Homo sapiens: one gene and its partner. The gene in region 1 interacts genetically with each later gene. Each region holds a gene or a part of one and is shown on either strand. Other genes may lie near its edges.

What was found. Genes that interact genetically often act in the same process or in processes that back each other up.
Region 2: of MPP1 (region 1) and ABCC4, changing one enhances a phenotype caused by changing the other (phenotypic enhancement), as found in Homo sapiens cells (one study listed by BioGRID).

The regions. Positions count from the first base shown.
Region 1 is NC_000023.11:154,802,485-154,809,704, reverse strand, and holds the start of MPP1 (55 kDa erythrocyte membrane protein), read left to right. Parts: upstream 1-4,219; 5' UTR 4,220-4,331; coding exon 4,332-4,433; intron 4,434-4,877; exon of another isoform or gene 4,878-5,008; intron 5,009-7,220. UniProt on the Homo sapiens protein: Essential regulator of neutrophil polarity. Regulates neutrophil polarization by regulating AKT1 phosphorylation through a mechanism that is independent of PIK3CG activity.
Region 2 is NC_000013.11:95,019,329-95,025,483, reverse strand, and holds the end of ABCC4 (ATP-binding cassette sub-family C member 4), read left to right. Parts: intron 1-3,801; coding exon 3,802-3,909; 3' UTR 3,910-5,649; downstream 5,650-6,155. UniProt on the Homo sapiens protein: ATP-dependent transporter of the ATP-binding cassette (ABC) family that actively extrudes physiological compounds and xenobiotics from cells.

The DNA.
Region 1 (7,220 bases):
CCCAATGTGTAGTCTTTTGTCCCTCATCCCCCTCCCACCCTTTCCCCCGAGTCCCCAAAGTCCATAGTATAATTCTTATGCCTTTTGTCCTCATAGCTTAGCTCCCACTTATAAGTGAGAACATACAATATTTGGTTTTCCATTCCTGAGTTATTTCACTTAGAATAGTGGTCTCCAACTCCATCTGTGAGTTGCCATTATTTTGTTCCTTTTTATGGCTGAGTAGTGTTCCATGGTGTATATATACCATATTTTCTTTATCCATTTGTTGGTTGATGGGCATTTAGACTGGTTCCATATCTTTGCAATTGCAAATTGTGCTGCTATAAACATGTATGTACAAGTGTCTTTTTCAAATAATGACTTCTTTTCCTCTGGGTAGATACCCAGTAGTGGGATTGCTGGATCAAATGGTAGTTCTACTTGTAGTTCTTTAAGAAATCTCGGTACTGTTTTCCACAGTGGTTGTACTAGTTTCCATTCCCACCAGCAGTGTCAAAGTGTTCTCTTTTCACCACATTCACACCAACATTTATTCTTTTTTGATTTTTTTTTATTATGGCCATTCTTGCAGGAGTAAGGTGGCATCTCATTGTGGTTTTAATTTGCATTTCCCTGATAATTAGTGATGTTGAACAGTTTTTCGTATGTTTATTGGCCATTTGTATATTTTGAGAATTGTCTATTCATTCCTTTGCCCACTTTTTGATGGGGTTATTTTTTTCTTGCTGATTTGTTTGAGTTCCTTGTAGATTCTGGATATTAGTCCTTTGTCATCAGATGCATGGTTTGCAAATATTTTCTCTCATTCTGTGGGTTGTCTGTTTACTCTGCTGATTATTTCTTTTGCTGTGCAGAGGCTTTTCAGTTTAATCAGGTCCCACCTATTTATTTTTGTTTTTGTTGCATTTGCTTTTGGGTTCTTGGTCACGAACTCTTTGCCTAAGCCAATGTCTAGAATAGCTTTGCCAGTGTTATCTCCTAGAATTTTTATGGTTTCAGGTGTTAGATTTAAATCTTAGATCCATCTGGAGTTGATTTTTGTACAAGGCGAGGGATGAGGATCCAGTTTCAATTATCTACATGTGGCGTGCCAATTTTCCCAGCACCATTCGTTGAACAGGGTGTCCTTTCCCCATTTTATGTTTTTGTTTGTTATGTCAAAGATCAGTTGTTTGTATTTGGCTTTATTTCTGTGTTCTGTATTTTGTTCCATTGGTCTACATGCCTATTTTTATACCAGTACCACGCTGTTTTGGTAACTACGGCCTTGTAGTATAGTTTGAAGTCGGGTAATGTGACCTTAGATTGTCTATTTGTGCTGTTTTAGACTTTTTGATATGGGCATTTAATGCTATGAATCTTCCTCTTAGCACCACTTTTGCTGTATCCCAGAAGTTTTGATAAGTTGTGTCACTATTATCATTCAGCTCAAAGAAATTTTTGATTTCCATCTTGATTTCATTGTTGACCCAAATACCATTCAAGAGCAGATTATTTAATGTCCATGTATTTGTATAGCAAAAGTCCTATCCTGAGGGTCTGTTTTCTGAGGCCACCCCATTTCTGACACCTGTTTTCTTAGCCTATGTTTGGTAGAAAGCAAAGCCTGGAGCAAAACATATGTGGTAAATCTTTAGTGAAGGATGCAATCCCATGGGTGTAAGAGTGAGGGAATAAATGAAGTGAGGTAGGGAAGGATGGAAACAAAATATACTTTGGTGTGCTACTGAGTTCGCCACTGTTACTCAAGAAAACACAGCTTATCTCACAGTCTTCCTGAATGCTTCCAGAAGAGTTGTATAGAATCACACCATCTTGAAATGGTTGAGGAAAGGAATTGATCTGCCTACGGGTGTTTGTCTCATTTCTGTCAGTGGTCAAAGTTCACCCTATTAGGTGTTTGTTAGTTTCCTCACACCTCTGAGTTGTGTTACCTTGGTCCTGGTAGTCAGTAGGAAAGCCAGATCCCACACACCACAGTTCAATCCTGAATCCAAAAGTGGTAGGAGTCATCAGAGCCTCCATGGATCTGGTCAGGATGAGCTTGAGTGCAGAAGCTCCTGCTGCAGTGAGTGCAGTAGAGGTCATTTCAGAACCTAGCCCTCACTTTAGAAAAGTGAAGGAGTCAGAAGTGTCAGGAGATGTGAAAACGTCAGTGGCAGTCAGGGATTTCCATTGATCAAGTGCCTGATCGCCTGGGAAGTAGATAAGGCTGAGAAAATATGGAAGGAGTATAAATTGGAGCAAGGCCATCCATACTATGGTTTTCGTACCTGGACAAACAAGGCAACTCTAGTCCTGAATATTTTGCAGATGCACAGAGGGAGACCTGGAAGGTTACAGACCAAACTGGGAATAGTTGTTCCCTCTAGGAGCAGAATTGCTGGCTCAGAGGGTAGATGTATGTTCAACTGTAAGAGATAATGGAAACCCGTTTTCCTTACAACTGGTACCAATTTAGACTCCCACCAGCAATATTCAATAAATCATATGGATTCACATCCTCCCCAACACTTGGTACTGTTAGACTTTTAAATTTTTGACAACTGAATGGGTGAACAGTGGTATTTCATTGTAGTTTTGCTTTGCATTTTCCTGATCACTAATGATGTCGAACATCTCTTTATATGTATGTTTATTGGCCATATGCGTCTCTCTGTTGGTGAAATGCCTATTCATGTGTTTTGCCCACTTCTTTACTGGATTGTGTTTTTCTTAATAATTTGTAGTCCTTTATATATTCGCAATTGGAATTCCTTGCCACTTATCTGTATTGAAAATATTTTCTCCCAATGCACAGCTGTGTTTTTTGCTCTTTATGGTGTCTTCATAAATTAAAATTCTTAAAGTCAAAGTTACCACTATTCCATTCTATGGTCAATGGTTTGTCTACATTGTTTAGAAATCTGTATCCCAAAGTCTAAAAGTTCCTTGCCTATGTTTCCTGTCAAGAGCTTTAAGGGTATGTTTTTGACATTTAATTCCTTAATCCATCTGGAATAGATTATTATTATTTTCCATATCACATGAATGAGGATTCCAATTTCATCTTTTCCAATATAAATAACCATTTTCCAGCGTCAGTTAATAAAATGTCCCTGTTTACTTACCTAACATGCCACTTCTATCATATACCACATTTCTATACTTGCATGGTTGCGTTTCGGGGTTCTCTATTCTATGCCATTGCTCAATTAATCTATCCATGCCTCAATATCACAGTCTTAATTTCAATCTCTCCCCCCCCACCCCACCCCCCCCTCCCCCCCCGTTCGTTTAGAGTGATCTTGAGGAAGGGAACCGTCATTCACATGAGTTCGGCCTCTTGGTAGAGAAAACTGGGCAATGCAGCTCTAAACTGTTGCCCTTGGATTTTCTCCTCTTGGCTATGAGCTCCTCCTTCCCAGGAAGCTTTGAGGAAGGTCAGAATAAGATTACATGTAGTGATGAACTGCTTCTAATACTGTGAGGCTACTAGCTTGGGGTAGGGGACCAAGAGCCGTACAAGCCCATTAAATGTTTGTTTTGTTCAGAAAGCCTTCCATCGCTGTGACTGGTGTTTGAATGTCTCCAATGCGTTAGGATGCTAAGGAATCCTCCTCTAGGGTTACTAAGGAATGTTTGCTGCCTTTGCTTTCGCTGAGCCGGAAAAATTTTGTGGCATTTACAGCAGGAGATCTGCCCTAAGTAAAAACAGTTTGGTTTTGAAGGCAATAAGATGTTTCATCATCAAACAGCACACAACAATTAAATGACAGGGTGCAGCAGCACAGCAGCCTTAAAGGCATTTTCGCAATGTCCAGATCTCAAAGGGTAATGCTGCGCCCGCATCAATTTATGGGAAGAGTCTAGAGTTCACCTACATCTTTTGAACTCCACTAAGCCGGCCGATTCTGATTTCCCTTGTTGCCTCCCTGCAATCCCCACGAATTTGGCCAGGGCACCCGGGCGGCTCAGGCCCAACGGGGCGTGGGCCGTGTGCTCAACCACCCAGAAGCTGGGGGCCCCCTCCCCTTTCTTATCTTTCTGGCATTCATCTCACGCGGCCACCTACAGCTACGACTTCCTCAGGCCCTTTAAGGGCCGCTTCTCGGAGCGCAGGGAGCCGCGGAGTCCGGGGCGTGGGAGACTTCCATGGGCGGAGCGAGGGCAGGAGTGGGCGGGCCGTAGGCGGAGCTCCGTCCGCGCCCTCCCGGCGCACCGCCTGCGGGGCGGTGACTGGCCCAGCCGCACCGCGTCTCCCGCCTTCTCCGCAGCCCCGCAGGCCCCGGGCCCTGTCATTCCCAGCGCTGCCCTGTCTTGCGTTCCAGTGTTCCAGCTTCTGCGAGATGACCCTCAAGGCGAGCGAGGGCGAGAGTGGGGGCAGCATGCACACGGCGCTCTCCGACCTCTACCTGGAGCATTTGCTGCAGAAGCGTAGTCGGCCAGAGGTGAGCGGGCCCCGCTAGTCCCAAGGGCGCTGGGCCGGGGCTCGGCCATTCATCTCGGGACTTTCCCTGTCCCGGTCCCTGTCCCCGGGGGGCCTGTCCTTGCGGGTCCTGGCCATAGGTCGGAGACCGCGATAGCCGGCGGGGTGAGGACAAGGCCAGCGCGCGGCCGGGTTCGTACCGGGCTGCTGGTGCAGTGGATCCTTGCCCCCAGCAGTCCTTCCAGTTGGAAATCAGGAGAGGCAGCGGCCTGGACAGTGCGCTTATTAAGGGCAAGGAAAACTTCCTCGTGGACGGAAGTCAGAGTAACAGAAAGTCTTTAAGGAACACATCAAGGAGTAGGTCTGCCTGGTTGTTGTTGAAGTGCTTGTGTTTGGGTCAGCAGAAATGATTGTAAAAGCCAGCTTCTGGTTCTAAAGAGCTCACTCACTGTTCCTCTTCATTTAGGCAGGTCCCCTTGTGCTATGGTGCAAAGAGGGTGGCCAGTGTATATTTGCGGGTGGAACAAGGAATCCAGATTCCAGGGATGGATGGCTGGTAAATAGCTATTAACCTCCGTCCTCAAAGATGCCCTAAGGGTAGGTTGTGCTTATCTGTTACTGGCAAATCTCTCCCAAACTCGCTGGTTTACAACACTGAGCATTTTCTTGTCTCTCATATTTCGTTTTGATTGGGCCCAGCAAGGTGGTCGTCACTCAGGGTCTGTCAGGTGGGGACACGGCTCACTTACTCATTTGGAGCCATGAGCCATGAGCCAGAAAATCAACCAGCAGCCTCTCCCTGTGGCTTGGTCTTCCTCACAGCATGCTGGCCAGGTCCCAAGGGGAAAATGTCCAGAGAGAACCAGAGAGCCAGGCAGAAGCTCAGAAGTCACAGCATGAACCTCCTTCCTAGACTGCAAGGTCTTCTAGGGCAGGGCCGTGTCATACTCACTTCTTTAAGTGCCCAATAAGTGGGTCCTCAGAAATGTTTGCTAAATTAATAAATGACTGAAGAGATGGACATTTGGGATTTACAGTAACCCTCCGATTTCACAGATGAAAAAACTGAAGGTCCCTGCAACATAAGGCAAGCAGTAGAGCTGTAGACTCTTTGGGCTAAGTGGCATTAACTCAAGGAAACAAGTAATGGGCATCAGAACTGAGGCTAGATTTTGTGTCTGCTGCACCGCATTGCCTTACCCTTTATATTCCACTCGAGTGAGGCATTCACACCTGCCTGTCATTTCAAATCAGGATTGCAACAGCCTGAGTTTAAATGAGTGCAGAAATAATACAGGCATGAAAGATGCTATTGTTATACAGATGATGAGACAAAATTACAAGTTCTGTTACCTGATTCCCCATAAACTTGGACTTGTGATTTTTTTCTTCCCCACAATCAGTACTCACTTGGCTGAGCCTCAACTATTTTTAAAAAATCTATTTATTTCTGGAAGTCTTATTGAGGTACACTTAGCATACAGTAGAATTCATGAAATTTAATTGTGTAGTTTGATGACATTTGACAGATGTATATAGTCATGTAACGACAACCACAATCATGACAAAGAATAAACATTTTCAAGGTTCCAGGAAGTTCCCCTGTGACCCTTGGCAGTCAGTCACCTTCCTCCACCTGGAACATGGCAACCACTGATCTGTCACTATAGATTTGCCTTTTCTGGAATTTTATATAAATAGAATCCTACAGTATGATGTATTTTGTGTCGGGGTTCTTATGTAAACCTATGTGTTCCCTTATGGGCATGCTTGAAAGACTGTGCCTTTTTGAAAAGAGGCCCTGTCACCACCAGTGTTATGTTGTGGGCACAACCTCTGAGTAAACAGCACGTTTTGTGGGGCTGTGAGTTTATACTGTAATATTGGAGATAGTCTACCAGTTAGCTAATTTGTTTGGTTTTTACTAACGGATTTGAAGAAGATCAAATAAGAAAACTTACTGAATCCCTGAATGAAATAGTATCCAGCTGTGCCAAAGTGAGCATCTGAGGGAGACTCTTCACACGATGAAGTGTGGCTTGACTCCACAACCTGCGGATTCTTATTTCTTTAGGTTCACCTTCCCTTTGGGGCTCTTACCAGTCTTTGCTGCAGCAGCAAGCTCTGCCTTTCACTTGCTGCATGGTTTTGGGCAAGCTGCTGAAGCTCTCTGTGCCTTAGGTTTCTCTCCTTTATGAAACTGGCAAGTTTGGAAGGTTGTGGCAACATTTACATGAGATAATGCTTGACAAGGACCTTGAGCCACACTGGGACATCCAGGGTAATGACCCAGTATCTCCCTAGGAGCTGCCTGCCCAGTAGTAGCAGTCAGAAAGTTTTCCTATAATGGCAAGATTTGAAGCAGGAAAACCTGTGAGGAAGTTGTTGGCTTCAATAGAAATTATAAAATTATTTTGCTGAAAGTTTCATTTAAAGGTGTCACTTTATGGAAAAAGGCTACCGATTCAAAACAAAGTTTCACTTCCAATTATAATCCACATTTAATACTGAAAGAATATTGTCTAAAGGTAATTTTGCAATAGGTTTGAATGTAGCCTATCTCCCCTATTTAAGTATATCTCCTTCCTTGGATAAACTAATTTTTTTTTTCTTTTCAATGTGGTCTAGGCAGGTTAATGGAGAAACTAATTTTATTAGCTCTCTCTGGCCTTGTTCTTCACAGCAGTATCCATTAATGCACATAAAAGTAGTTGTAAAATTCCCAATACTGCTTTTCTCTTCGGGCCTGTTTGAAGCAACACTTTCCCCAGGACCTGAAGCAATTGGTTGAGAATCCCTGAAAATTCTC
Region 2 (6,155 bases), on another chromosome or scaffold:
GTATGTGTATGGGTGTGTGGGTGTGTGGGTGTGTGTGTGGGTGTCAGGGGATGTGGGTGTGTATGGGTGTGTGGTGGGGGTATGTGTGTGGGGGTGGGAGGGTGTGTGTGGGGTGTGGGTGTGTGTGGGGGTGTGGGTGTGTGTATGGGTGTGTGGGTGTGGGTGTGTGTGGGGGGTGGGCGTATGTGGGTGTGTGTGGGGGTGTGTGTGGGGGTGTGGGGGTGTGTGTGTGTGTGGGTGTGTGTGTATGGGTGTGTGTGGGGGTGTGTGGGGGGTGTGGGGGTGTGTGGTGTGGGTGTGTGTGGGTGTGTGTGTGTATGTGAAATTGAGAGTGCATGTTTTGCCTTTCTTCCTCCTTAGCTTACAGAATTGGGCAATTGCAATCTGTCTTCTGTCAGGACCTCACCAATGTACATAGGTCAGTCAAAGATGTTTCTAATTGATTCTTTATTGACATACCTTAGCGCTCCTCCAATTAACTGGAGAATTCCTATGATTGTTGAGGCTTGCTCTTCATAGACATCTTCTCAGCCTTGCCACAGCCCCATTGGTTCCAGTTGCATATGGCAGCCCTTCATGATATTTTACCATTCAGGCTCTCCTGATTTCACAAAGATTTAGCTTATTTTTTATTAATGAATATCTTTGATGTTCAGAGTGGTTTCTGAAAGGAAAAGGAGAGGAAATTCATTACTCCATTATATTAAAAGCAGAAGTCCTTTCTAAGTCTCCATTACTCTTTGACAATATGCATGCCAATTATGTACACCAAAATTAGACTGGCTTTAAAAATGATGAACTTGAGGCCTTGAGAGTTACTGTGATTGAATTAGGGCCATACACATCAGTAAAAATGAACTGACAGGGTCTTGAGCCTGAATTCAACACATCAGATGGTATCTTAGGAATGCAATGTCAATCAAAGCCCAGTTGCTCTCCTTTGTCCACGTGCGGGAGCTTGTATTGCTCTGTTGATTTTAGTAAAATCTAGCTCTGTTACGGTGGCTTTACTGATGAGTTAGAGTTTAAATATGAACTTAGTTTCAACCTACATTAGAGGAACTATAATGGAGCAAACTCAAGAGAAGAAGGAAAAGAGGGACAAGGTTTCCCATACTCACTGACCTGATACTCTTCTTGCCGCAAACGTGAACGCTTATGGCATTGTCTCCCTTAAGCTTCACAGTCCTTCTGAACTGCTGTTATTATCCCCTTTTGACACATGAAAATGCTAAAGTACAAGAAGCTGAGTAACTTTTTTTTTTTTTTTTTTTTTTGAGACAGTCTCTCACTCTGTCACCCAGGCTGGAGTGTAGTGTTGCAGTCTCGGCTCACTGCAATCTCTGCCTCCTGGGTTCAAGTGATTCTCCTGCCTCAGCCTCCCGAGTAGCTGGGACTACAAGCGTGCACCACCATGCCTGGCTAATTTTTGTATTTTTCGTAGAGATGGGGTTTCACCATGTTGGCCAGGCTGGTCTCAAACTCCTGACCTCAAGTGATCCACCTGCCTTGGCCTCCCAAACTGCTGAGATTACAGGTGTGAGCCACCACGCCCAGCCTGAGTAAGTTTTCAAAGCCACCAGTTCAAAAGTGTTCATACTCCATCTTCTATGATCTTTCAGTTCTACCTTTCTGCCTCCCAGGTTACCATATTCATTCAGTTGAAATTGTCTCAGCCACAGCTTTGGGATTCTGTAAAGATAAAAGATGCACCAGAGGGATTCCTAAATGCTTTGTCTTCATCCTTCGAGCTGGGCGATACCTCCACGTTCTGTGTGCTTAGGGGCCACTTCTCTGAGCAGCATTCATCATGACACCCAACACTAATGCAGCAGGTTTTCAACCTGTAGTTTGTAGCCATTAATCAGTTCCTGTGACGTAAGCTATTGTTATCTCATGTTACAGATGAGGCAGCTGGTAGAGAGAGTGGTTAGGTAATTTTTCCAGAATCAGCAGTGAATCCAGGAGAGAGCTGAGACTGGACCTGTCTATCCCAGACATAGCTTACAACATGAGGGCTTTGCTAAAAGTAGTTCAGTAATCTCAACTCCCTTCATCACCTGCACTGTAAAAAAGATGTTTCATCTCACCTGTGCTGTTACCCATAGTGTGTTATAAAACCTGGTAGCAGAAGAGAAAAAGAAAGGTCAAATCAAAGAATATATACACAGGAAGTTTGTTTTTGACTAAGTATTTCAGACCATGAAGCTAAGACCATTTGGGTTTAAAGTTGCTAATAACAACACTTTCTTTATATATATTTAAAAAAATACATCAAGAGGGTTACACAGAAGGAAGCAGCCTATTTGGGGAAGGCTATCAAGCAGTAGAAAGTGATGTGAATGTCTATTTGTTCTTTTGGCTGTTTTTAGTTTCACTACAGAATAGCCTTTTTGGAGTACATAAATCTATAACCACACAAAATATGGCTAGCTTAAAAAAGTGGGAGAGGGAGATGATATGAAATTATCCCCTGAAAAGTCTTACTTTTGAACACTTGCATTATAATGGAAATAGCCTCAGATTTCTTCTGGTGGCATTCCAGCATTATTGGACAATTTATTTTCTCCTTAAGTGACATTTTAGTACATTGTGTGTTATATGTAATGATATTTCTGGAGTAACAAGTGTGCAAGAAGTGAGAGAAAAAGAAAGTACACTTAATATGTAGGCAGGTGTCTCAGCACTTTCTTTTTTGTACGTGAATCCCATTATCTCCAGTGATAACTTTGTTGACAGCACCCACCAATATATTCAGAGCAAGGTTTTATAAAATAGATCCAGAATCGTATGACTAAGAGACCCAGGTGACACGTGTCAGCCTCAGATAGTTGCTACATTTTCTGTTTTAAAGATTCAAACAAAACTTTTCACATTCTTCTTTGGGGAAAAAAAATTACATTTGAAGTCCTTTTTCACCCAAACACGTTTTGAGATAAGAGCTCACAAGTCTTGACATTATTTCATTTTGTTATGCGCATCTGTCAAGGAACCAAGATACGATACAGCTACTAAAAACTGATGATTGTGGAACAGAGAAACTTGACAGCATTTCATTTCCTTTATGTTCTGATTATACGTTTATCAGAAAACCTGTATCTCTTCTAGTTCAGCTAGAAATTGGTAGAATTCAGGAACTCAAAGGCTTGGCAAAGAACTGTCCTATTATTTGGTATCATCTTACATTTTAGAGAAGTTGCTTGGTTGAGTCATTGTTAAAGCTTTTGCTTCTCTTTTCATTATTGTGGGCCACTATCCACAGACCACATTTCTATAGGCCCTATAACTGCTTTGCCGCACAAATTAAACGCCGGGATGTTTCATACGTATATGCCAGCATTTCAATGCTTGTCAATCAGAGTTTATAAAATATAGGGATTACAACTTGATATTAACATCCAAATCTATTGTGCTCATTTTACGTGTGAAAATGAGAAACCCTCATGCAGACGCTAGATTTCCCAGCCTCTTTGTCACCCTGTTTTTAATTTATCTCCAGGTTTTGAGTCAGTAAAATGATTCCGCTTATCAATTTAATACAGAGATAAAACATATCTATGAATCAGAGTGATCGGAACTAAAATGGATCTACAGGTTGTTTGGCATTCAGCCCAGCCCTGCTGAGGGTTTTAGTGGGGCTAATTTCTCTGTACAGTAGATTCATCCCTGTTCTTAAATTGTGCCTCAGTGAGGGATATGATTTGCTTCACATGAAGAAGTAGACACAGAAGTGCATTGTTTCAGGGAGGAGACTTTAAAATTTTGAAACATTCTTTTTATGCTTACCTTTTTTTTTTCTAGGTATACTTCAAAAGAAATTATCCACATATTGGTCACACTGACCACATGGTTACAAACACTTCCAATGGACAGCCCTCGACCTTAACTATTTTCGAGACAGCACTGTGAATCCAACCAAAATGTCAAGTCCGTTCCGAAGGCATTTTCCACTAGTTTTTGGACTATGTAAACCACATTGTACTTTTTTTTACTTTGGCAACAAATATTTATACATACAAGATGCTAGTTCATTTGAATATTTCTCCCAACTTATCCAAGGATCTCCAGCTCTAACAAAATGGTTTATTTTTATTTAAATGTCAATAGTTGTTTTTTAAAATCCAAATCAGAGGTGCAGGCCACCAGTTAAATGCCGTCTATCAGGTTTTGTGCCTTAAGAGACTACAGAGTCAAAGCTCATTTTTAAAGGAGTAGGACAAAGTTGTCACAGGTTTTTGTTGTTGTTTTTATTGCCCCCAAAATTACATGTTAATTTCCATTTATATCAGGGATTCTATTTACTTGAAGACTGTGAAGTTGCCATTTTGTCTCATTGTTTTCTTTGACATAACTAGGATCCATTATTTCCCCTGAAGGCTTCTTGTTAGAAAATAGTACAGTTACAACCAATAGGAACAACAAAAAGAAAAAGTTTGTGACATTGTAGTAGGGAGTGTGTACCCCTTACTCCCCATCAAAAAAAAAAATGGATACATGGTTAAAGGATAGAAGGGCAATATTTTATCATATGTTCTAAAAGAGAAGGAAGAGAAAATACTACTTTCTCAAAATGGAAGCCCTTAAAGGTGCTTTGATACTGAAGGACACAAATGTGACCGTCCATCCTCCTTTAGAGTTGCATGACTTGGACACGGTAACTGTTGCAGTTTTAGACTCAGCATTGTGACACTTCCCAAGAAGGCCAAACCTCTAACCGACATTCCTGAAATACGTGGCATTATTCTTTTTTGGATTTCTCATTTATGGAAGGCTAACCCTCTGTTGACTGTAAGCCTTTTGGTTTGGGCTGTATTGAAATCCTTTCTAAATTGCATGAATAGGCTCTGCTAACGTGATGAGACAAACTGAAAATTATTGCAAGCATTGACTATAATTATGCAGTACGTTCTCAGGATGCATCCAGGGGTTCATTTTCATGAGCCTGTCCAGGTTAGTTTACTCCTGACCACTAATAGCATTGTCATTTGGGCTTTCTGTTGAATGAATCAACAAACCACAATACTTCCTGGGACCTTTTGTACTTTATTTGAACTATGAGTCTTTAATTTTTCCTGATGATGGTGGCTGTAATATGTTGAGTTCAGTTTACTAAAGGTTTTACTATTATGGTTTGAAGTGGAGTCTCATGACCTCTCAGAATAAGGTGTCACCTCCCTGAAATTGCATATATGTATATAGACATGCACACGTGTGCATTTGTTTGTATACATATATTTGTCCTTCGTATAGCAAGTTTTTTGCTCATCAGCAGAGAGCAACAGATGTTTTATTGAGTGAAGCCTTAAAAAGCACACACCACACACAGCTAACTGCCAAAATACATTGACCGTAGTAGCTGTTCAACTCCTAGTACTTAGAAATACACGTATGGTTAATGTTCAGTCCAACAAACCACACACAGTAAATGTTTATTAATAGTCATGGTTCGTATTTTAGGTGACTGAAATTGCATCAGTGATCATAATGAGGTTTGTTAAAACGATAGCTATATTCAAAATGTCTATATGTTTATTTGGACTTTTGAGGTTAAAGACAGTCATATAAACGTCCTGTTTCTGTTTTAATGTTATCATAGAATTTTTTAATGAAACTAAATTCAATTGAAATAAATGATAGTTTTCATCTCCATTCAGAGATCTGTATTTCTGTGCTTCAAGGGATTCCTGACTCATGTTCTTGCTGATGAATGCCAGTGAGTTTTCCTGAGATCGAAAAATACAGTATCAAAGGATACCTTCTATCATCAACCGGTTCTCTTGGCAAATTAGGTGTACCAAGTATTCTAACGGGTAGATTTCAGTGGGTTTCAGACAGTTTGAAGCAGTTGCTATTTAAGCAAGTCCATTTGCACCATTCTAGGAAGAAAGAGTATTAGCTTATGCCTCAGGCTTGAGCAGTATTAAATGGTTGAGGTTTTTGCTTTTGGTTTTGGTTTTTAAGGTGACTTTGTCCAAAACTAACAAGAAACATCTACCGCTGTTACGCTGAAATCACTATTAAATAATGATTCTCAAAGTGTGGTCCCTGGACCAGCAGCATACCGCATCACCTGGGAACTCGTTAGAAATGCACCTTTTTGTGCCTCACCGCAGATCTACTGAATCAGAAACTCTGGTGGTGGGGGCCAGGAATGT